Homo sapiens: one gene and its partners. The protein of the gene in region 3 purifies or fractionates together with the protein of the main gene of each other region. This does not show direct contact. Each region holds a gene or a part of one and is shown on either strand. Other genes may lie near its edges. The genes, in order: MAP3K14, TNFRSF10B and CASP10.

Evidence for each region.
Region 1: the proteins of CASP10 (region 3) and MAP3K14 purify together in Homo sapiens (affinity purification with western blotting; 2 studies listed by BioGRID and IntAct, with this or other methods). This does not show direct contact.
Region 2: the proteins of CASP10 (region 3) and TNFRSF10B purify together in Homo sapiens (affinity purification with western blotting; 2 studies listed by BioGRID, with this or other methods). This does not show direct contact.

What each region holds. Positions count from the first base shown.
Region 1 is NC_000017.11:45,264,931-45,272,037, forward strand, and holds part of MAP3K14 (mitogen-activated protein kinase kinase kinase 14), read right to left. Parts: intron 6,292-7,107; coding exon 6,128-6,291; intron 5,634-6,127; coding exon 5,483-5,633; intron 3,701-5,482; exon of another isoform or gene 3,079-3,700; intron 2,830-3,078; coding exon 2,476-2,829; coding exon of another isoform or gene 2,269-2,475; coding exon 2,162-2,268; intron 1,752-2,161; coding exon 1,607-1,751; intron 1,589-1,606; exon of another isoform or gene 1,320-1,588; intron 334-1,319; coding exon 233-333; intron 1-232.
Region 2 is NC_000008.11:23,024,020-23,031,126, forward strand, and holds part of TNFRSF10B (tumor necrosis factor receptor superfamily member 10B isoform 1 precursor), read right to left. Parts: intron 6,854-7,107; coding exon 6,740-6,853; intron 5,703-6,739; coding exon 5,591-5,702; intron 4,584-5,590; coding exon 4,312-4,583; intron 3,735-4,311; coding exon 3,703-3,734; intron 3,270-3,702; coding exon 3,114-3,269; intron 242-3,113; coding exon 169-241; intron 1-168. UniProt on the Homo sapiens protein: Receptor for the cytotoxic ligand TNFSF10/TRAIL. The adapter molecule FADD recruits caspase-8 to the activated receptor.
Region 3 is NC_000002.12:201,186,112-201,193,218, reverse strand, and holds part of CASP10 (caspase-10 isoform 1 preproprotein), read right to left. Parts: coding exon 7,095-7,107; intron 5,514-7,094; coding exon 5,420-5,513; intron 236-5,419; coding exon 100-235; intron 1-99. UniProt on the Homo sapiens protein: Involved in the activation cascade of caspases responsible for apoptosis execution. Recruited to both Fas- and TNFR-1 receptors in a FADD dependent manner. May participate in the granzyme B apoptotic pathways.

The DNA of each region.
Region 1 (7,107 bases), on a different chromosome or scaffold from region 3:
CAGAGAATCCCACCCGGCTCAAGTGTAGGTCTGGAGGACCTCTTTGTCACCACTGCCAGCCTTGCTTTGAGGCCCTGGGAAATGCTTTGAGGTCCTGGGGGACGTTGAAGGCCAATTCCAAGTATTCCCTAGAGTGCCATTCTACTTCTTTGAAAGCTTTCCTCCTGGAGGGTGGGGCCAGCTGCATTGGCTTCTGGGACTCTGCCCGTCAGAGTGTACCTGCCCCCCTTACCTGGCTGCTGATGCCAGTGGCGATGTCTCCCACTTTGACCCGGTGGAACTCCCGGATGTGCAGGTGTTCACCATTAAGAGACTGTATTTGGACTTTCACACCTAGAAGGCGGACAAGGTGATAGTCAGGAGAGCGGCTGCTGGCTCCCCAAGGACCAGGGTCCTGGCAGGGGCTGGGGGAACGTTTTTGTTAAAAGTCACTCTGCCCTATGTAGGGGGAGCAGGTCTGGCTGTGATGGAGCAGCAGAGATAAAATTTAGGCTGGTCTAAGCACAGCTGCATTTTTTTGTTTTTGAGACAGAGTCTCACTGTGTCGCCCTGGCTGGAGTGCAGTGGCGTGATCTCAGTTCACTGCAACCTTTACCTCCCGGGTTCAAGTGATTCTCCTGCCTCAGCCTCTCAAGTAGCTGGGATTACAGGCATGCGCCACTATACCCAGCTAATTTTTGTATTTTTAGTAGAGACGGGGTTTCACCATGTTGGCCAGGCTGGTCTCGAACCCCTGACCTCATGTAATCCACCTGCCTTGGCCTCCCAAAGTGCTGGGATTACAGGTGTGGGCCACCACACCTGGTCACAAAGCTGCATTTTTATAAGAAAAAAAAAATTCAGGCTGGAACAGCCCTCATATTATATACACCTGCTAGTTCTTCCTGGCCGTCAGCACCTGGGATTTGGCCTGTGCATTGCTAAGAGCTGGGGCTGGCTCCTATGGGGAAGTAGTATTTCAACTTGGATGCAAAGCAGAAAGGAACTGAACACAAGGATTCTTAAATTAGATTATGGGCAATTTAGATTGTTGCCTGAGTTGAAGTGGCCTTTGGCCAGCCATGGGGCCCTGATGCCATGAGTCACACTTGCCCTGGAGAGGGCCAGGGAACTCCAAGCTGATGATGCCCTTGTTGTAGCAAAGCCACATCATAACCTATGCAATCAAGCTTGAAAACGAAGGAATTTTATGTTGTCTTTCTCATCTGACCTCAAATCCCAGAGGGGGATTCCTTTTGCTGAGTTTTTGATTAAAATGCTCATGGGTCCTGTTCCTTTTCCCTTTAGAAGAGATTAATTGCTCATTTTCCTGACTCCAGGTCAAGAGACTGCTCTCCTCCCCAAGCTAGGGGAACCTTCTGGGACTCCATCAACTGACAATGAGGGGATAATGGTCCCTCACTGCCCCATCAGGAAAGGCTCATGGGTGATTGGGACCTTTGCTTGAAACCCAACTTACTGGCCAGGAACCTCAAGTTCTGGGACCAGGCGCCTTCCTCCCTCCCACTGTGCCAGAGGAGGGGAGACAAAATCCCTCAATGGCTGTCTAGCTCCAGGCAGATCAGCTGCCACGGGGACTGCTGAGCAGGTGGGAATTGGACTGTACCATTGAAATAGCTTGGGGTGTCGGTGGGCCGCCCCCGGGCCAGCACCATGTTCCAGCTGGAGCTTCGAGCCTCGGCCTGGCTGCTCCAGGAGTGTACGCCTGAGCTCAGGGTGTCCCGCGAGCTTTGAGAGGCCTTTGATGGGTTCTGAAACAACAGGATTGGGTACGGGCTCAGGGCCCTGGGCTCCAGGATCCATCTCCGGCTTGGGTCTCATTTGGGGAAAAGGGGCACTGCTCATGCCCTCAGCTGGAGGAGGGTAAGGGTTGCCTCCATGGGGGACGAAGGCCTGCCTCCCCATTATCTCTGGTGGCAAAACACATTCCCTAATCCCAGAAGGGTAGATTCCCATGGTTTCTCTGACTCTGAACCATGACCACCTCCCCCAACCTAGTGAGGACCCCCACCAGAAGGAAGGGGTGACCCCCATCACCCTCCCTTTACCCACTACTTGCACAGTGTCCATTCACTAGCTGGACGCAAAGCTACTTGCTCTGTGCCAGGGCCGGGAAAACCACACCCCTGGAGCCATGGCTCCGGGGCCACAACCGACTCACCTTCTCACTGTCATCCGACAGGGAGAGGCTGTCGATGCTGAGGCACGAGAGAATTTGCTCCTGCTCCTCCAGAGAAAATGGCTGGGACAGGCTGTTGAGGAATAATTCTGCAGGGAAAAGTGGAAGATGGCTGTGAAAGACTGGGAGGAGGCTGGCTGTGTTTTCAGGGGTTCTTCCTGCACAGTCGGTAGAAGCTGAGCTGCTGGGGAAGGGGCTGGAAGAAAGCCCACACCGCAGGTAAAGAGAAACACCGGCCTCCGCGGGTGGCCCAGGGCCAGTGCTCAGGGCCCCACTGCAGCCACGGCTGCCCGTACCTATTTCCAGCTGCTGCAGTTCCTGCTCCGGGACGGTTGCTTTCCGCTCTGGTGAGCTGGGGTTTCTGGCAGGGGCTGGCTCCAGGGAGGACAGAGGTAAGGGTTCCCACATCCCAGACTCCTCCTTGCTCAAAGTCAAGGGAGGAGACTTGTTTGGCTCTGGGGGCTCTGGTGGGAGAGGAGGCTGGAGCTTAGGGGCTCTGCCTGTTGTCTCCTCAGCTGGCCGGGGCCCTGGGGCCCTTGGCGAAAGCTCTCTCGGCTGGGCATGGAGGGTCTGGTGGTAATTGGCTTGATTTGGCGGTGGATGTCTTGGTTCTTTATATTCTCCCCTCCAAGGGCTCTTCAGACCTCCCACTAGAAAACAGAGAGTACAATGGTGAGGGGAAGCGTGCTGTGCACAGACAGCGGTCCAGGCAGGAGCGGCCTCTCCTGAGTGCAGAAGGGCTAGAGGCAAACAAAGGGGAGGACACTGCCCCGGGCCACCATGGGAGGTGGCTCCAGAGGGCAGCATGGTGGTCTCCACAGGAGACTTCCTCAATAAAATGGTCCCAATATGACAGGGATAGGACTGGATTTCTGTCTTTGATTCTGTTTTTCTTCTAGGTATCAGTAGCAAATTCAAAAACTACAGAATCAGCTCCAGAGGACTTTGTTAACAAGAAAGAGAAGATTGAAAACAGCCCTGGGGCTACACCAACTCAAGAGCTCCCAGGCAAAGTGGCATCCTGGACCCACCATCTCTCCTACCCCATCCTCAGTCGGTACTTCCCCAGGCACCGTTTGTTCTGGCATGGGGCTAGTTCAGCCCTGGGACCACCCTCATCCTTATAACTACCAGCTGTCTTTGGTGAGGTGCAAGATCTCTCTGGTTTTCTTTATTTCATTTTCATTCCTATAATCACAGCCTTTTTTGTGCCCATCCCTCAGGTGACATTCTATTATGTTTGATGTGTCATTTTTGATTTGGTTGTGTCCTTGCAAAATGTGCGTTGTTTTATTTATCAATTTATTTTTATTTTTATTTTTTTAAAGAGATGAGGTCTCATCATGTTGCCCAGGCTGGACTCCAACTCCTGGGCTCAAGCGATCCTTCCACCTCAATCTTCTGAGTGGCTGGGACTACAGATGTGCGCCACCATACCTGGCTATTGATCAATTTTTAGTTTACCAAACAGGCATTATGTTCTGGGTCCCATTCTGTGTCGGGTTCTCTTTTCACTCGGCACCATGGCTTTAGGATCCATCCATGCTGCTCTGTGAACGCCGAGTTGCTTTAACTGCTTGGTGCTCCATGAGGCATCCCCTTTTGTGTCTCTGTCCTCCCAGTGAGGGACCCCATCGTACCCTACTCCCCTCCCACAAAGGAAGCTGTAGTGCGCGTCCTCAGGCGTGTCCCCATATGGATCTGCTGGCATTCGTTTGTCAGTGCACCCAGGGGTAGAAGTCCTTGGTCTCAGTCTGCAGACGTCTGCCTGAGTGCAGCCAGGTGCCCCCCCAGAGTGGGTAGCCTTGTCCACATGCCCATCAGCAGCACCTGAGGGGTCCCAACAGCCCTACATCCCACCAACTTTCTGCTTTTTTCCAGTCAAATGGCTCTTGAGTGTTACCTGGCTTTATTTATTTATTTATTTTTTGAGTCGGGTCTCTGTTGCGCAGGCTGGAGTGCAGTGGTGCAATCATGGCTCACTGCAGCCTCGACCTTCCAGGCTCAAACAATCCTCTCACCTCCTGAGTAGCTAGGACTACACGCATGTGCCACCATGCCTGGCTAATTTTTAAATTTTTTTGCAGAGAAAGGGTCTTGCTATGTTGCCCAGGCTGATCTTGAACTCCTGGCCTCAAGCGATCCTCCTGCCCCAGCCTCCCAAAGTGCTGGGATTACAGGTGTGAGCCACTGCTCCCGGCCTGTCTTTATTTTGTATTCTTGGATTCCTAGTGAGTTTGAGCCCCCTCTATACATCATAACCCTTATGATACTAGTAAACATATATTTTATCTTTAACCCCATTTCTGGCACAGAACTCCTAAAAGCCTTACTCTCCAAAATGATCTCTTTCTGTGTACTAATGGATTGACTGAAGGCTGGCAGCCCCTAGGTAGCTTCAAGATGGGGGCTGGTCATCAGAGAGACATAGGCAGGATTAGAGGGTTGGGACTTTCATCCCACCATCCCACGTACTGGGAGGGAAGGGGGCTAAAGGTTAAGCGGTTCGCCAATGGCCAGTGATTTATTCAATCATGCCTACGTAATGAAGCCTACACAAAAACCCAAGAAGACCGGGTTCAGAGAACTTCTGGTAGCTGGGCACATGGAGGTTCCTGGAGGGTGCCAAGCCCTGGAAGCTCTGTGCTCCCTCCCACATGCCTTGCCCTATGCATCTCTTCATTTGTATCCTTTGTAATATCCTTTCTAATAAACTGGTAAATGTAAGGAAGTGTTTCTCTGAGTTCTGTGAGCCACTCCAGCAAATTAATCAATCCCAAGGAGGGGGTCATGGGGTCCCTGACTTATAGCCAGTTGGTCAGAAGCACAGGTAAACACGTGGGCCTGAGACTGGCATGGCTAGGGGGTGCAGTCTTGGGGATCGAGCCCTCCTGCTGTGGGATCTGATGCTACCTCCAGGTAGATAGTGTTGGAACAGAACTGAATTAGAGGACACCAAGCTAGTGTCTGCTGCAGAACTGATTGCTGGCTTGGTGGGGTGGAAATCCCCACACATGTGGTCACAGGAGTCTTCTGGGTTGATTGTAGTTGAGTGGGAGAATGGAAAAAGCACTTCGAGTTTGCGTGTGAGTTTTCTCTTTCCCATCTCCTGAGCGCTGCCTCTGGGTCCAGGCGTGGCACTGTCGCAATCTCCCAACAACCCTGAGGCTGCTGCACCCCCATAATCCAGAGGGGGAAACTAAGGCTCTGAGGGGTGCCTTGCTCTGGACCTGCGCCCACCTGCCTCCTCTGTCCACCTCTGTCTTCTGCCCCCCGGGTCAGCCAGCGTGGGGCTCTTCCTACCTTGCTGTAGTGCCCGGTTCACCTTCCCTCCCAGCTCCGCTGCAGACACGCGGTGGATGGGCTCTTTCCTCAGCCCCTCTTGGATGGCCTGGGCTGTGAGAGGGGCGCAGGAGGGTGGGATCTCCCTCACAGGCGGAGGCTCGCTGGCAATCTGGGGGGCAAAAGACAACAGGTGAGGCCTGCCTTCCCTCATTTCCTGATACCCGGCTGTTATTGCTCTTTGCGCAACTCCCGCCGGCCCCTGTTCCCGCTGTGCTGGGGTCTACCACAAGGAATGGAGGGGTCTGGGCTACAGTGAGGGCACTTTTCCCAGGAAAGGGACAAATGGAGCCAGTAAAACAGGCCAGAGCCAGGCAGCAAGACGCCCACAGCCTCCAGGCCCGGCCCGTTAGGAGGCAGGTGGATGGGGCCCAGGGTATGGACAGAAGAGAGTTCTCACCTGCCATGAACTTGGTGAGCCTCCGCAGCTGGATCTCCCCTTGTACCCCCAGATTTGGGTGGCAAGTATTTGAATTAGGATCCCACATGGATGACCAGGCCTCCCCTTGCTCCATCTGCCACCGCAGAGCAGCCCCTCCAGCCTGCAGCCTGGGCCCCAGGGCCCTGCAGCTCCCCCTGTTGGCCATGCTGGGTGCCGTCACCGACCTTGAGGCAGAGCGGCCCTCGGAAGAACTGAGTCCAGGGGTGGCAGCCGTTGAGCATGTGCAGCATCATACAGCAGCTGCTCCAGACATCCACCTTGGCGTCGCAGCTCCTGCCCAGCACCACCTCCGGAGCCATGTGGGTCTCTGTGCCAGGGATGTAGTCCCCTGAGAAGGGGGATGAGACATAAAGTTACCTGGAATGCTGATGGGCAGGAGCCTAGGCAATGGCCACCCTGGTTAATCCTCGGGGTATCTTACATTTGTCACTGTTAAAGTACTTTTTATTTTATTATCTTTTTAGTTCTTTGAGATGGAGTCTTGCTCTGTCACCCAGGCTGGAGTACAATGGCGCGATCTTGGCTCACTGCAACCTCCACCTCCCGGGTTCAAGAGATTCTCCTGCCTCAGCCTCCCAAGTAGCTGGAATTACAGGCATGAGCCACCATGCCCAGCTAATTTTTATGTTTTTGTAGAGATGGGGTTTCACCCATGTTGGCCAGGCTGGTCTCGAACTCCTGACCTCAGGTGATCCACCCACCTCGGCCTCCCAAAGTGCTGAGATTACAGGCATGAGCCACTGTGCCCGGACATGTTAAAATACTTTAAATATAGAAATAAAGTCTCCAAGTCAGACTTGTAGGGAGGAGCTAGGCGGGGACTCTGCTGGGAACTTGTACAAAGTAACAGAGCATCCATGATGTGGACTCTGCCCTTTGGACCAAACCCTTAAAGTGTTTTTTAAAAATGGGGCAGGGGCTGGACATTACAAATTAGGTTGTAGAAGGCTAGTAAGTAATACCAGTAAGTAATACTTCTTACTAGTAAGAAATACTAGTAAGTGAAATTTAAAAATTGTAATAGAAAACTTATATGCGTAAAAGACTGAAAGGATAGATGGCAGATGTGAACAGTGGTTTTTTTCCTGGTGATTTGTATTTGTAATTTTTGCTTAGCTCTACTTTCTTCAACAGATATTAGAAA
Region 2 (7,107 bases), on a different chromosome or scaffold from region 3:
AGAAGAGATGGGAGAAGACAGTTTAGGGTCCAGATGGTCTATAGCACAGGACCCACGGCTTCCAGCATGGAATACTCTGGAAGAGCCCTCTGACCTCTGGGGACAGCAGTTAGGACCCTGTCCCTATTCCCTCCATTCCTGCTGCATCTCCAGGAGCAAAACACTTACTCTCAGTGGGATCACCTTCATTTGCTGGAACCAGCAGCCTCCTCCTCTGAGACCTTTCAGCTTCTGCCGGTTCCTGTAACACATAGTGGGGAATGTCCTGGTCAGAGCCAGGAGTCCTACAGTCCAGTACTGACCCCGACCACCAGCCAGCTCTGAGACCTGCAGCACGTCACTTCCAGAACATTGTTCTGAAAGGTCTGGCAACAAGACAGGAGACAAAGGGGCAAGACTCTCGGAAGGAGGCCGATACAGCAGTCAATATTTTAGATTAGGAGTGTATATTTTTAAAACCCCAAGGTTTAATTTGTAATACTCAAAAGTGAATATGTCTTGATGATTTTTTTTTTTTTCGAGACAGAGTCTCACTCCGTCTCCCAGGCTGGAGTGCAATAGTGCGATCTTGGCTCACTGCAACCTCCACCTCTGGGTTCAAGAGATTCTCCTGCCTCAGCCTCCCAAGTAGCTGGGATTACAGGTGTGCACCACCATGCCCAGCTAATTATTTTATCGTATTTTTATATTTTTAGTAGAGACAGGGTTTCACCATGTTGGCCAGGCTAGTCTCAAACTCCTTACCTCAGATGATCCATCCGCCTCGGCCTCCCAAAGTGCTGGGATTACAGGCGTGAGCCACTGCACCTAGCCCTGATGAATGTTAAACCACATAGCAGAGGCCAGGCATGGTGGCTCACACCTGTAATCCCAGCACTCTGGGAGGCTGAGGTGTGAAGACTGCTTGAGCCCAGGAGTTTGAGACCAGCCTAGGCGACATAGCGAGATCCTGTTTCTAAAAATAAAATAAAATAAAATAAAATAAGCTGGGTGTAGTGGCACAAAACTGTCGTCCGAGCTACTCAGAAGCCGGTAAGTCCGAGCTTACTTGGCCTTAGAAGGTCAAGGCTGCAGTGAGCCATGATTGTACCACTGCACTCCAGCCTGGGTGACAAGAGTGAGACCCATCTCAGAAAGAAAGAAAAGAAAAGTAGCAGCAGACATAATAAATTAGAAAATGGACTTACAAGAAGACCCAAAATGCAAAGAAACAGCTTTGATGAGGAATAGGAAAAATTTATCTGAAATAAACTCCCAAATCTCGATTGAGTCATAATAGAACACTTGACTTGAAATATTATCTTCTTTGATAATAAAATTGAATGTTGAAAGGATGTCAATCATTCCTAGAACCATGTATTAATTTAAATTAATATTTGTAAAGTCTAGTGACTATGTGGGCGGGAGGGGTACTAGAGAAAATCTTATAATTCTAAATTTTATCTAATTCTAAATTATAAGATGTGTAAAAATAATTTTGAAAACATATTTGCTGTCTAAGATATTAAAACATATTAGACAGTTTTGTTTGGTGTTGTACATGATATAATCCTTTTCATGTCAATACCACATAAATACATATGCATTTATGTACCTAGATGGTATATGCATAAAGAGTTTAGCAAAGAATCACAAGAAATTATCCACTGTAGTTACCTGAAATAAGAAGGGCCAAAAGGCTGGGAAAGAGTAAAGAAGGCTCTTGGTATGATCAAGTTTTTTCATACTCTGGTGGATGTGTGGCTATGGGTGACCTGCTTTCAAAAAATGATCAGGCCAGGCATGGTGGCTCATGCTTGTAATCCCAGCATTTTGGGAGGCCAAGGAGGGTGGATTGCCTGAGTTCAGGAGTTCGAGACCAGCCTAGGCAACATGACCAAACCTCGTCTCTACAAAAAATACAAAACTTAGCTGGGCACGGTGGCACATGCCTATAGTTCCAGCTACTCAGGAAGCTGAGGTGAGAGGATGACATGAGCCCAGGAGGCAGGGGTTGCAATGAGCCAAGATGGTGCCACTGCACTCCAGCCCAGGTGATAGAGCAAGATCCTGTCTCAAAAAAAAAAATCTTCAAAGTCATTAATAAGCATGGAGGAAGTATTGGCATTGTTCATTTGTTTCCTTTTAAAATCTCTTCTCTTTATTTAAAAAGAAAGTGGTACAGATGCAAGGAAGAAACAGAAACAGTCTAGGTGGAAGAGATCTCTGCCCATATAAACATTTGACATTTTCAAGGATAAGATCTAGTTTTTTTTTGTTTGTTTGTTTTTTTAAAAAAGAGTGAAGAGGAAGAGAGAAAAAAGTAAACATTTGACATGTAGCAAAGGAGGTGGCAAAAGGGCAAAGGCAAGGGAAAAAGGAAGAATTGGTTGCTAAATGGGCTTGGAAGAAGGAAACAGAGACTCAGAATAATTCAGGGAGTTTCTCAGCTTATATTGAATCGAAAATTCAATTCTGTTTAGATTATATTGCTGTATGTTAAAAATCAAATCATTAAAAATAAAACACTGCAGGAAACTGGATAGTCTCATCTTATGTTCGAGGGAAGGACTTTCAGTGCTTACGAGCAATGAACAATAAATGTATATACAGATTTCCTGCCTACTCAATATCACATCAAAACTGATGGATTGATATGAACTGATTGTGTGCGTGTGTCCAATACAAAAGCCCTTTGTGCATCGACTTGGAATCCTACTTTTTGGAAGCTGCCCTACGAACTTTGAAATATGTTCAATGTAATAACAATTTCAGAGTAAATTTAAAACTCCTGCTGTTACAAGCAAGGGCTCACTGACTTCTGTTAGGAGCATACGATGGAGACTGTGCAGCCTTATTCACTCATCAATGAACCCTGTGACCCCCACTCTATGCCTGTGGAGCTCCAGGCTCGGGGGACACAGCAAGGACAGGACAGGGAGTAAGAAGCAGATGTCCTGCAGACTGGCACGGTCACCACCTCAGTGCAGCTGCTCCATCCCCTGCAGTCCCCTGGCTCCTTCAGGTTCCATTTCCCCTGGGCCAGGAGAGCTAAGGCACTGCCCTCTCCCACTGTCTACGAAATCCCAGGTGAGCAGCATGCCAGGAAACAAAATGATCTGTCCCCCACTCACCAGCAGATGCTCTGACTCCCCGGGGGACAACATGTTGACACCTGTTGGCTCTGCTGGCTCCTGGACTTCCATTTCCTGCTCAGGGACCTGGGTGGGCTGCAAGATACTCACGATCTCATTGAGGACATTGTCCTCAGCCCCAGGTCGTTGTGAGCTCTGGAAAAAGACATTGGGAAGGCAAAAAGCCGACTCAGGAGTCCACACCTAGGGCTCGCTGCAGGGTCCTCAGTATGCAGCTGCACCTGACATCCCCACCCCCTCTCAGTGAGGTCACCGCAGGCAGCCCAGACTCAGCACATCCAGGACCCGCTGCTGGGGCCAGGCCCCCAGTGCTGTGCTCAGGCAGACACCCCATCCCTAGGGTGCAGGCTGTGGGGTGAGGATGTCACCTGGGCTGCAGCAGGGCTCACCAGCCTATGTGGTGCTCAAAATGGCCATGTGTCCCCCACAGTCAGCCCAGAGCACCCAGGCCACTTCAGAGAGTCAGGGCAGCCATGAGGACAATGGGGACCCACCCACCCAGGTTCTGCTGTCCCAGGAAGCAGTTCCTGAACCCCTGAGCCCCCAGCTCCTGGAGAAATCAACTCACTCTGTCCACACGCTCAGGGTCCCCACCACCACCTAAAAAAGAAGCAGTCTCCTTAGCAGGAAGGGAGGGGCCCATGAAGCACCCCCCTCCCAGAGGACAGTGGGGCGCAGGGCTGGGCTGGGGGCTGGGACACTGGACAAGGAGCCCTGGGGCTGGGGACAGAATGGGGCCTTACAACTCAGAGACACCCTGAGGAAGGGGGATGAGAAGGGGAACTAGAGTAAAAACAAACACTTGGAAAATCTCTGGTTCTGCTCTGACCAAGGCTGAAAAAATCCCACGACCACTTCTCATCCTCACCCTTGTCACCCAGTTGAGGAGCCGACTGCCCCCTGCCTGGCTGGGCCTGAAGATGGGAGGAACTGGCCCTGCCCTCCTGGACTTGGCTGGGAGATATGGGGACCCCCAGACCTGGGAGAGGGACTGAAGAGACCAGGGTCCTGGGGGGTGCACGGGATGTGGGGATGGGGGTGACCACGAGGAGGAGGATAGAGCCAGGCTGGAGGCACTTAGACTTGGGGCAGGGGCAGGCGTTTCTGTCTGTGGGAATAGGGTGGGAGGGGGCAGGGCAGAGAGTGCCCTGTGCCCCCGCCCTCAGCCAGCACCTACCTGAGCAGATGCCTTTCAGGTAAGGAAGGACTTTCTTCCACAGTAAAGACTTGCAAACAAACACAGCCACAATCAAGACTACGGCTGCAACTGTGACTCCTATGATGATGCCTGAGAGAGAACAGGGAGAGGCAGGAGTCCCTGGGCTGGAGGTCACCGTCTCCTCCACAGCTGGGACTTCCCCACTGTGCTTTGTACCTGATTCTTTGTGGACACATTCGATGTCACTCCAGGGTGTACAATCACCGACCTTGACCATCCCTCTGGGACACCTGGGTACACACACAGAGGGAGAGGGGGGACTCTTGATGGAAAGCTGGCCAGGTGGGATGAAAGAGGAGCCACCCTCCCTCCCCAGTGTCCCTGAGAAGGTGTCAGGGGAAGGACAGTCTCCTCGTGTCAGCAGTGGGTCCCCCTGTGCTCCCTTCTTGAGGCTGGGGAAGGGTCTGAGCATGCGCACTTCAGCCCCTCGGCCTCCCTGCTCTGGGGTCAGAGCTGCAGTTCCAGGAGCCTTCTGTGCTGGGCACACACTGAGCTTCCCTGGGCTGCAGGGGAGGCCTGCGTTAGGAGCAATCACACTCCAGGGGAAGGTCACAAGCCCGTGTGGCCACAAGATGAGTCCGGTCTTCCAGTCAACCACAAAAGTGAGCTCTTGTCCCCAGCTGTCTGCCCATTTCCCCCAATCACAGCAAATACTAGGGGGGCCAGAGAAGAGCAAATTACTCTTGGCCCCTAAAACCCAAATAGGGAAAAGACAGGTCTTACTGAGGGATCAGGGGCCAGGGGTGAGGCCGGCTGGGTGGGCTCAGGTCCTCATGGGAACTTGAAGGAGCTCCACCCATGGCCTTATTATGCCTTTTGTGGGCCATGGGCACTTTTGTCTTTATGGGCCCCTGCATGCATAAAAATATTAAAAAATACATTTTATTGCTGAATTGGTATAAAGATGAATATATGCCTGGCTGCATTCTACTCATTCTTCTTATTTCAAGAGAAATTAAATCATTTCATGGGCCCCTAAAATTATCATGGGCCCCAAGTCATGGCCTTCTGTGGTCAGTGAACAAGTCAGCCTGGTCAAGGGGACTCGTGCTGGGGAGGGGTGGAAAGAGGCTGCTGCAGGGGGCAGGGGTGGTGACACGCAGAGGGACCAGGAGGGGCAGCCACAGCCTCAAGGATGCCCCTTGCGGGTGCTGTCAGGGGAGAGACAGGGGTACAAGGAGACTTGGGTCTTTTGGGGTTCCATGGAGCTACTGGGAGCCCCCGGCTCCTGTCTCACCCTGTGCGGCACTTCCGGCACATCTCAGGAGAATCTTCTTCCCGGAAGGTGCCTTCTTCGCACTGACACACTGTGTTTCTGGTCGTGGTGCAGGGACTTAGCTCCACTTCACCTGACGACAGAGCATAAGGTTTTGGGAATGTGTTTTCCTGATGTGTCCCTTGACCCTTCCTCCCCACCCCAAGACCCTGCTACTCAGCTCAACTCAGTTTGCCAAGGAGTTCTGAGGGCCAGTTTCTGCACCAGCACACTCATGGCTCATTCAGGATACCCACCCTTCAGCTGTCACTAACACTCGTTGAGTCATACAAAAGGACCACAGTTCATTATTTATTACATTAGATTAGGGGAAAGCACCGTTTAGGGGACAAGCATCGTTTAGATTGCATGGCCAGTAGCAAGGGAAGTGCAAGGGATCACCTGAGAGACTGCAAGGAGAGGAGCCCTTGGGGGACTTCCCCAAGGCCCAGCCTGCTGGGGAGGAGGGAGAGGCCTGAGAACCTGAAGGGTGAGTGAGGCCGAGCACCTGCCAGGAGCACAGAGCCCAGGGGAGAGAGCCTGGCCCCAAAGCAGACCTGTGCCACTGCTGAGATCCAGCCCTGTCCACTTGGCCTGGCTCATGGCCCCACCCCCTTGCAGCTGACAGTTTAAAAGATTTCCTTACCATGTAGCATACATTATACAAATAATTTCTGTATTATTATTATTTTAATTAATTATTGAGACAGGGTTTTGCTCTGTTGCCTGGGCTGGAATGCAGTGGCACAATCTCGGCTCCCTGCAACCTCGGCCTCCTGGGCTCAAGAGATCCTTCTGCCTCAGCTTCCTAAGTAGCTGGAAATACAGGCACGCGCCACCATGCCCGGCTAATGTTTATATTTTTGTAGAGACGGGGTTTCTCATGTTGCCCAGGATGGTTTCAAACTCCTGGGCTCAAGTGATGCCTCCCAAAGTGTTGAGATTACAGGCATGAGCCACTGTGCCGGGCCTGTTTTATTTATTAAAAAGCTCAAAGACAAAATCATGGAACATGGTATGATGAAGACCAAGGTGGACCAGAATCTAGGTCTCCTGATCCCATTTTAGCTACAACTTTTATGTCATCACCCCGCATTCCACCTTTAGGCATGGGGTCCATATGTTCTGTACCTGAATCACACCTGGTGCAGCGCAAGCAGAAAAGGAGGTCATTCCAGTGAGTGCTATAGTCCTGTCCATATTTGCAGGAGATGCAATCTCTACCGTCTTCTGAGATATGGTGTCCTGGGAGGGGAGAGAAAAGCCGGTGAATGAAATGCCACAGGATTCCCAGAAGCTGGCAGTGGTGGCTGGGGGACTCCTCTTTCAGGGATGTGTGGAACCAAAAGAGGGAAATCTCCTCTACCTAGCTTGGTCAGTTCATCAATTCTGCATTTACACACCTTAAACCAGCACTGCCAAAAGAAATATAAGCCACACATTTATTTATTTTATTTTTTATTTTTGAGACGTAGTCTCACTCTGTCACCCAGGCTGGA
Region 3 (7,107 bases):
ACAAAACAAAACAAAACAAATAATCAAAACATCATGCATGGCCAATTGGTTTAAGAATTTCCATGGTCTGGTCCAAGTTAGCAATCACAAGCTACTTACCTTTCTCTCTTTTGTATTTCTCTATGTTTCTCAAAAGTTTAGGTACAACTGTTTTGCAGAGGTCCTCCAGGCATGTCAGATTATCTTCATCTATTTTACCTTGTTTCTCTAGAAATGCCAGGAAACTTAGGGAGGTCTACAAGAGAATCAATAGAGTTACATTTACTTGCCTATTGATTATCCACTCACTCAAATGTTATCTGCATGGCCAGTAGGCACTAGGTTTTGCACTGATAAATAAGATATAACAGCATCTGCCCTCAAGTTGCTCAGGAATGTAGGGGAAGAGGCATTACCAAGCAAATCTGTATACAATCTATATTAATACCAGATACCAAATATATATATAACTCTATGCAACAGGGACAGTGCTTGCTGTATATTAACAGCACAACAACTGAATAAGTAGATATTATTATAATCCACATTTTAAAGATGAAATAATTGAGGCACAAAGAAATTCCAGTAACTTGCCGAAGGTCACAAAGCTAATTAATGGCAGAGCTGGTACAATCTGATGCCAAAGTCTATGTTATTAACCACTGAACTCTAAGTCACAGCTTTAAATGATACTGCTTAGGAAGCCAGCAAAAGAGGGACACCAAAGAAATGAGGGGAAAATGTTTCGAAAGAATTTTATATTTGATATTTTAAAAGAAAAAGAATTTTCTGAAACAAAAAATCACAATTCAGCTATTATTATTATTATTATTATTATTATTATTTTGAGATGGAGTCTCTCACTCTGTCTCCCAGGCTAGAGTGCAGTAGTGCAATCTCAGCTCAAAGCAACCTCCACCTCCATTCAAGCCATTCTCCTGCCTCAGCCTCCTGAGTAGCTGGGATTACAGGCTCATGCCACCACATCCAGCTAATTTTTGTATTTTTAACAGAGATGGGTTTCACCATGTTGGCCAGGCTGGTCTCAAACTCCTGACCTCAGGTGATCTGCTTGCCTTGGCCTCCCAAAGTGCTGGGATTACAGGCATGAGCCACCCTGCCAGGCCAGAAACTCATGTCTTGACAGCATCCTACCAGGAGGAATAAAGGGCTAAGATGTGATTCCAGAAGCAATTACGGAAATTCATTATACTTTCTAAAAGTTTATTAGATGTTTAGTACATCACACACATACACACGCACATACTTAAATGGGACCTGGACATTAGTTTAACACCACTCTGGCAAATACTAGCAGCAAACATCTGAAAGTTCTTTTTTTGCTTTTTTGTTAAAGAGTAAGTTCAGGTGTGGTTTCCTTTAGACTCAATGTTGTATGCTGATTGCTGTGCTGAGAACGGATTTCCTGACAGTTGTGAGATCTCTCAGGATATGTGTAGGCCAGCTATACTGCTTACATTTCTATGAAAGCTATCAAAGACAAAGCCCAGAATGCCCCTCAAAGGCAAGGTTATTTGTGTTTCCCCAGAGAGACTGTAAGAATTTAGAACCTTTCCGTTTTGGCTGAGGGGTGTTCAGGCCCTTTTCCAATGGTGGGTAAGTAATTTATTTCTGTGATAAGGTCTTTTGCAATTGCAGTTGCAGATAATGCAGCCTCACTGAGCCCTGGTGTGGAAACATCTGTGTTGCTTAGAGACTGTCCTTTACACACTTCCAAAGGCTGGTCTGATTGCAAAATCCAATACAGATCAACCTGGATTATCTGAGGTGTGTAACTCAGCCACAATTCTGACACAAAAAATGAGATCTCCCCACCCCGCCCCCAACAAAAAAAAGCTGAGATCATTTGGAATCCAAAGAGGAAATATGGTTTTCCTGAATTTGACCTGGTAATATCACAATTCCATGCCACAGCTAAGCACAGTTACGTTTCCTTTTACTGTTATACTGAGAAAAACAAGATCATTTGGCCACATGAACATGTGCATTTGATCATTTAAAAGCTATTTTAGTAGGGGGGAAATGTTTGGAATGCTTCTGACCATAAAAATAATTCTGGGCAGGCACAGTGGCTCATACCTGTAATCCCAACACTTTGGGAGGCTGAGGCAGGTGGATCACCTGAGGTCAGGAGTTCAAGACCAGCCTGGCCAACATGGTGAAACCCCACCTCTACTAAAAATACAAAAATTAGCTGGGTGTGGTGGTGGGCGCCTGTAATCCCAGCTACTCAGGAGGCTGAGGCAGGAGGATCACTTGAACCCAGGAGGCAGAGGTTGCAGTGAGCCGAGATGGCACCATTGCACTCCAGACTGGGCAACAAGAGTGAAACTCTGTCTAAAAATAATAATAATAATAATAATAATAATTCTGTAGCCACAGATGCCTTCAAGTAGAGTTCTAGAACCTGTGCAAGCAAAAGAGAAAAAAAAACATTTTCCAGCTTTTCTTGTTTGAAAACTAACACTCAGTGTTTCGAATATCAGAGATTGCTTTAACAAATGACCTTTCTCTCGTCCCTCACCCGCCACCTCATATTGTTCAGAGAGTCCCTAACATAGGACGGGGTATAACAATAAAAAGTGGTCTCATTTTATGTATAAACCTAGACACTGGAAAATTTGTGAGCGGATGCCCCAACTTGGGAGAGAATGTTATGAAAACCACCTGGAGCGCTTGTCAAACTACAGGAATCTCCTCTGACTTTGAGAAATTCTGTATTTAAGGTATAATGCTACCATTTGAGCAGGTAATTGCTTTGTACCACTGCAAATGTGGGCACTGAAATTTTACGGCAAAAGCAGAAGATCCTTACAATGTTTTATAAAAAAGAATTCCCTAAAACAAAATCGCCTGATTTTTAAAATTCTCCAAGAATTACTGAACCTTTAGGTCATGTGTGTGTGTGCATGTGTGTGTGTGTGTGTATACATATGTGTATATACGTAGTGTGTGCATATATATTTACTCAAAAGCAATGAGCATGCCAGCATCGAGTTTGTGGTCTTGAAATGACATCTCTCATTAAAAGAAGTCAGGATTTTTGGGAGAAATGAGAGATTCCAGGACTGGGTAGAAAATATACAAGATGAACCTGGGATATTTTTGCCAGATAGTAAAGAAGCCATCAAAGACTACTAAGGTCATGTCAAAATGACTTAGGAACCAAACTGAAGATGTATCCCCTGGGAAAAAATGGGACAATTGAACTATTTTTTTGAGACAGGGTCTCACTCTGTTACCCAGGCTGGAGTGCAATGGCACAGCCATTGCTCACTGCAGCCTTGACTTCTCTGGGCTCGAGCGATCCTCCCATGTCAGCCTCCTGAGGAGCTGGGACTACAGGTGCACGCCACCACACCCAGCTAATTTTTGTATTTTTTGTAGAGACCGGGTTTTGTCATGTTGCCCAGTCTAGTCTCAAACTCCTGAGGCTCAAGTGACCTGTCCACCTCAGACTCCCAAAGTGCTGGGATTACAGGCATGAGCCACCATGCCCAGCCTCAGTTTGAACTTCAGTAAGGATAATAATTGCAGTAGATTGAAATACCTCACATATGTTTAAATCCATGAGTTTAAATTTATATATATTTTGTAATGGGTCACCTTCAGAGAATGATAAGATACCAATTAACTTAAAAACTGGATAACTAGGCAAAGCACAGTGGTTCATGCCTGTAATCCCCAGAACTTTGGGAGGCTGAGGCAGGTAGATCACTTGAGGTCAAGAATTTGAGACCAACCTGGCCAAATGAAACCCTGTCTCTACTAAAAATACAAAAATTAGACAGGCATGGTGGTGCCTGCTTGTAATCCCAGATATTCAGGAGGCTGAGGCAGGAGAATCACCTGAACCTGGGAGGCAGAGGTTGCAGTGAGCCAAGATCACACCACTGAACTCCAGCCTGGATGACCAAGTGAGACACCGTCTCAAAAAAAAAAAAAAAATAACTGAAAGAAAAGAATCAAGGATTCACATATAAGCTGTATCACTGGGTAACCAAATAATGGATGAAGGGAAAACGAAATGATACAATTCTAATATGTGGCCGGGTATGGTGGCTCACACTTGTAATCTCAGCACTTTGGGAGGCCGAGACGGGTGGATCACCTAAAGTCAGGAGTTCCAGACCAGCCTAGCCAATATGGTGAAACCCTATCTCTACTAAAAATACAAAAAGTTAGCCAGGCGTAGTGGCAGGCTGCTGTAATCCCAGCTACTCAGGAGGCTGAGGCAGGAGAATCGCTTGAACCCAGGAGGCAGAGGTTGTAGTGAGCTGAAATTGTGCCATTGCACTTCAGCCTGGGTGACAAGAGTGAGACTCCATCTCAAAAAAAAAAAAAAATTCTAATATCTCCATTTTTGCAACCCCTCAAAATTCAATATATAAAATGGTTGAACATCAACAGTTGCTAATATCAAAGAAAAAGAGAGAGAAAATCAGGTACCTCCTGATGAAAAAACAAGACTACCTATAGTCTTGCCAAACGGATCTGACCTGAGTCTGATGAAGCCTCTGGATTCAGCTGCCAGTCTGCAGGAAATGCAGAGGACAGAGGAACATGCCAAACTGCACCACGAGTGTGCAATCAGCAAAACTCAGCCTGTGAGAAACTCCACAGGCCAACCGCCCAGAGATTCTTCAACAGATACATTTTAAGAAAAAGAAAGAGATTTGGGGGCAGGGAGGAAATCTAACCTACAGATTAAAAGGCACTTGAAAGAAAAAACTGGACAAGGCCAGGTGCGGTGACTCACACCTGTAATCCCAACACTTTGGGAGGCCAAGGCAGGCAGATCACTTGAAGTCAGGAGTTCTAGACCAGCCTGCCCAACAGGGTGAAACCCTGTCTGTACTAAAAATACAAAAATTAGCTGGGCATGGTGGTGCATGCCTGTAATCCCAGCTACTAGGGAGGCTGAGGTAGGAGAATGGCTTGAACCCAGGAGGTGGAGGTTGCAGTGAGCTGAGATCATGCCACTGCACTCCAGCCTGGGCAACAAGGCAAGACTTCGTCTCAAAAAAAAACAAAAACAAAAACAAAACACAACAGATTCCAACAGAAGTGAGCATTTACTGAATGCTATACCAAATATTGGCCTCATGCTAATGCTTCATGAACATTATTCCAGCTAATTCTCCCAACAATCCTAGAAGGAAGTCATACGATTGCCCACAATTTTACGTCTAAGAAAATAGAGACTCAGAAAAGTTCAATCATTGGCCTCACAGCATGGGTTTAGAATTAGAATCAGGACCAGAATCTAGGCTCATCCAGCACCAAAGCCAATGTTCGTAACCATTGTATGATACTGTCTCCCATAAAAAATAAATCTCCCTAAAAACCCTTTCCAGCATCTTTCTAATCATTGATTAAGACAGTGCTCACACAGACCCATTCTGTATGACCCACTCACCATTTCAGTTTTGGGAAGCGAGTCTTTCAGAAGGAAGATCATGTCCTTTAAGTTCTCTGAGTCAATGCCTTCTGACAGTTCGTAGAGCAGGTTTCTAAGACACACACCCAAAATGACAAATAAAGCCTTACACTTGTGGAGGACACCATAATCAATCAAGTGCTTTCATAAATGTTTTCTGTCATTTGAATGATCAACTCTATGTGTAGACAATTATTAATCCCATTTATAGGTTCAAAAAATGAAAACTTTCAGTTTCTAAGTGACTTGTTTAAATAAAGATAACACAGTAAGTGGTAGAAGCAGGCCTTCTGACTCCAAGTCTAATGCTGTTTTTCACCACACTAAGAAGGCATATTTAAAAAAAAAAAGGCATAAAACACAATTCTGACATGCCTTCCCATCTCCTGATTCCATCAAGAAATTCAGGCTTACTTTACAGGCCCTTGGTAGATAGGACCCCAGGCCAGCCAAGGTACAGTCGGTTGTATATTGAAAAGGGAAGAAAACTACCCCAGCTTCGAGATATAATCCACAACCAGAAACAGTGAGGATTTCATCCACATACTAACACCCCTATGTGTCAGAGACTGTCCCTCAGATGTTTAGCCAGCAGAATGGAAATATGGATTTCTGGAATTCATCATTCCTTCCACTGACTCAAGGGCAACTCAGGTTCTGGAAGCCAGTTCCACCGCTAAGGCTTAATGTGTTCTAATCGCAGAGACCATAAAACACCCTCCAAAGGCTCCTCTTCGTGAGGTTCTCTGATGTGGACACTATGTCAGTGAACAATTTTAAACACTGTCATCAGCCTGGCACAGTGGCTCACACCTATAATCCCAGCACTTTGGGAGGCCGAGGTGCGTGGATCACTTGAGGCTAGGAGTTCCAGACCAGCCTGGCCAACATGTTGGAAACCCTGTCTCTACTAAAAATACAAAAATTAGCCAGGTGTGGTGGTGGGTGCCTGTAGTCCCAGCTACTCAGGAGGCTGAGGCAGGAGAATCGCTCGAACCCAGGAAGCGGAGGTTGCAGTGAGCTGAGATGGTGCCACTTCACTCCAGCCTGAGTGACAGAGCGAGACTCTGTCTCAAAATAAAAATAAAACGCTGTCATCCATGATAAGACCAATGCCTAAATTTTACCTCTTTGGGCAAAATGCCTGTTTTTACCTTTCTGGATTCCCACCCAAAAATATAGAAATTTCTATAACTAGACATGGCATAAATGACATCCCTCCCTACCCCAGAAACACATCTCTTTTTTCATCTTGCTTATTTCACTCCAAGTATGCATTACTCTCTTCTCAAGACCCCGGGAAACAGGTAGACAGACTAGTGGATCCCAGGAGGGAGAAGATCTGCACGTGTAGCCGCTGGTAAGCAGGGAAAACACGGGCTCTGCCACACTGAGGTGGGCTTCACTGCTAGTGAGAAGCAAAACAAAGGGAAGCCACCTCTGGGCCCAGGGCTTGGTCTTGAAGCTTTGCTGACCTCCCAACTCTTATCTCATTAGCATCAGAGGCTGAGAAGGAGGTTTAGAATCTCCTGGTTTATCATCCAAGGAGGTAGATAACCAAAAGATCTTAACTGCAGCTTCCTTTCAAAGCCCAATGGCCAGAATGAACACTAGATGGGAGATCCTCCCATCTCCACCACAGACCCGTCCTCACCTAAACAGAGAAA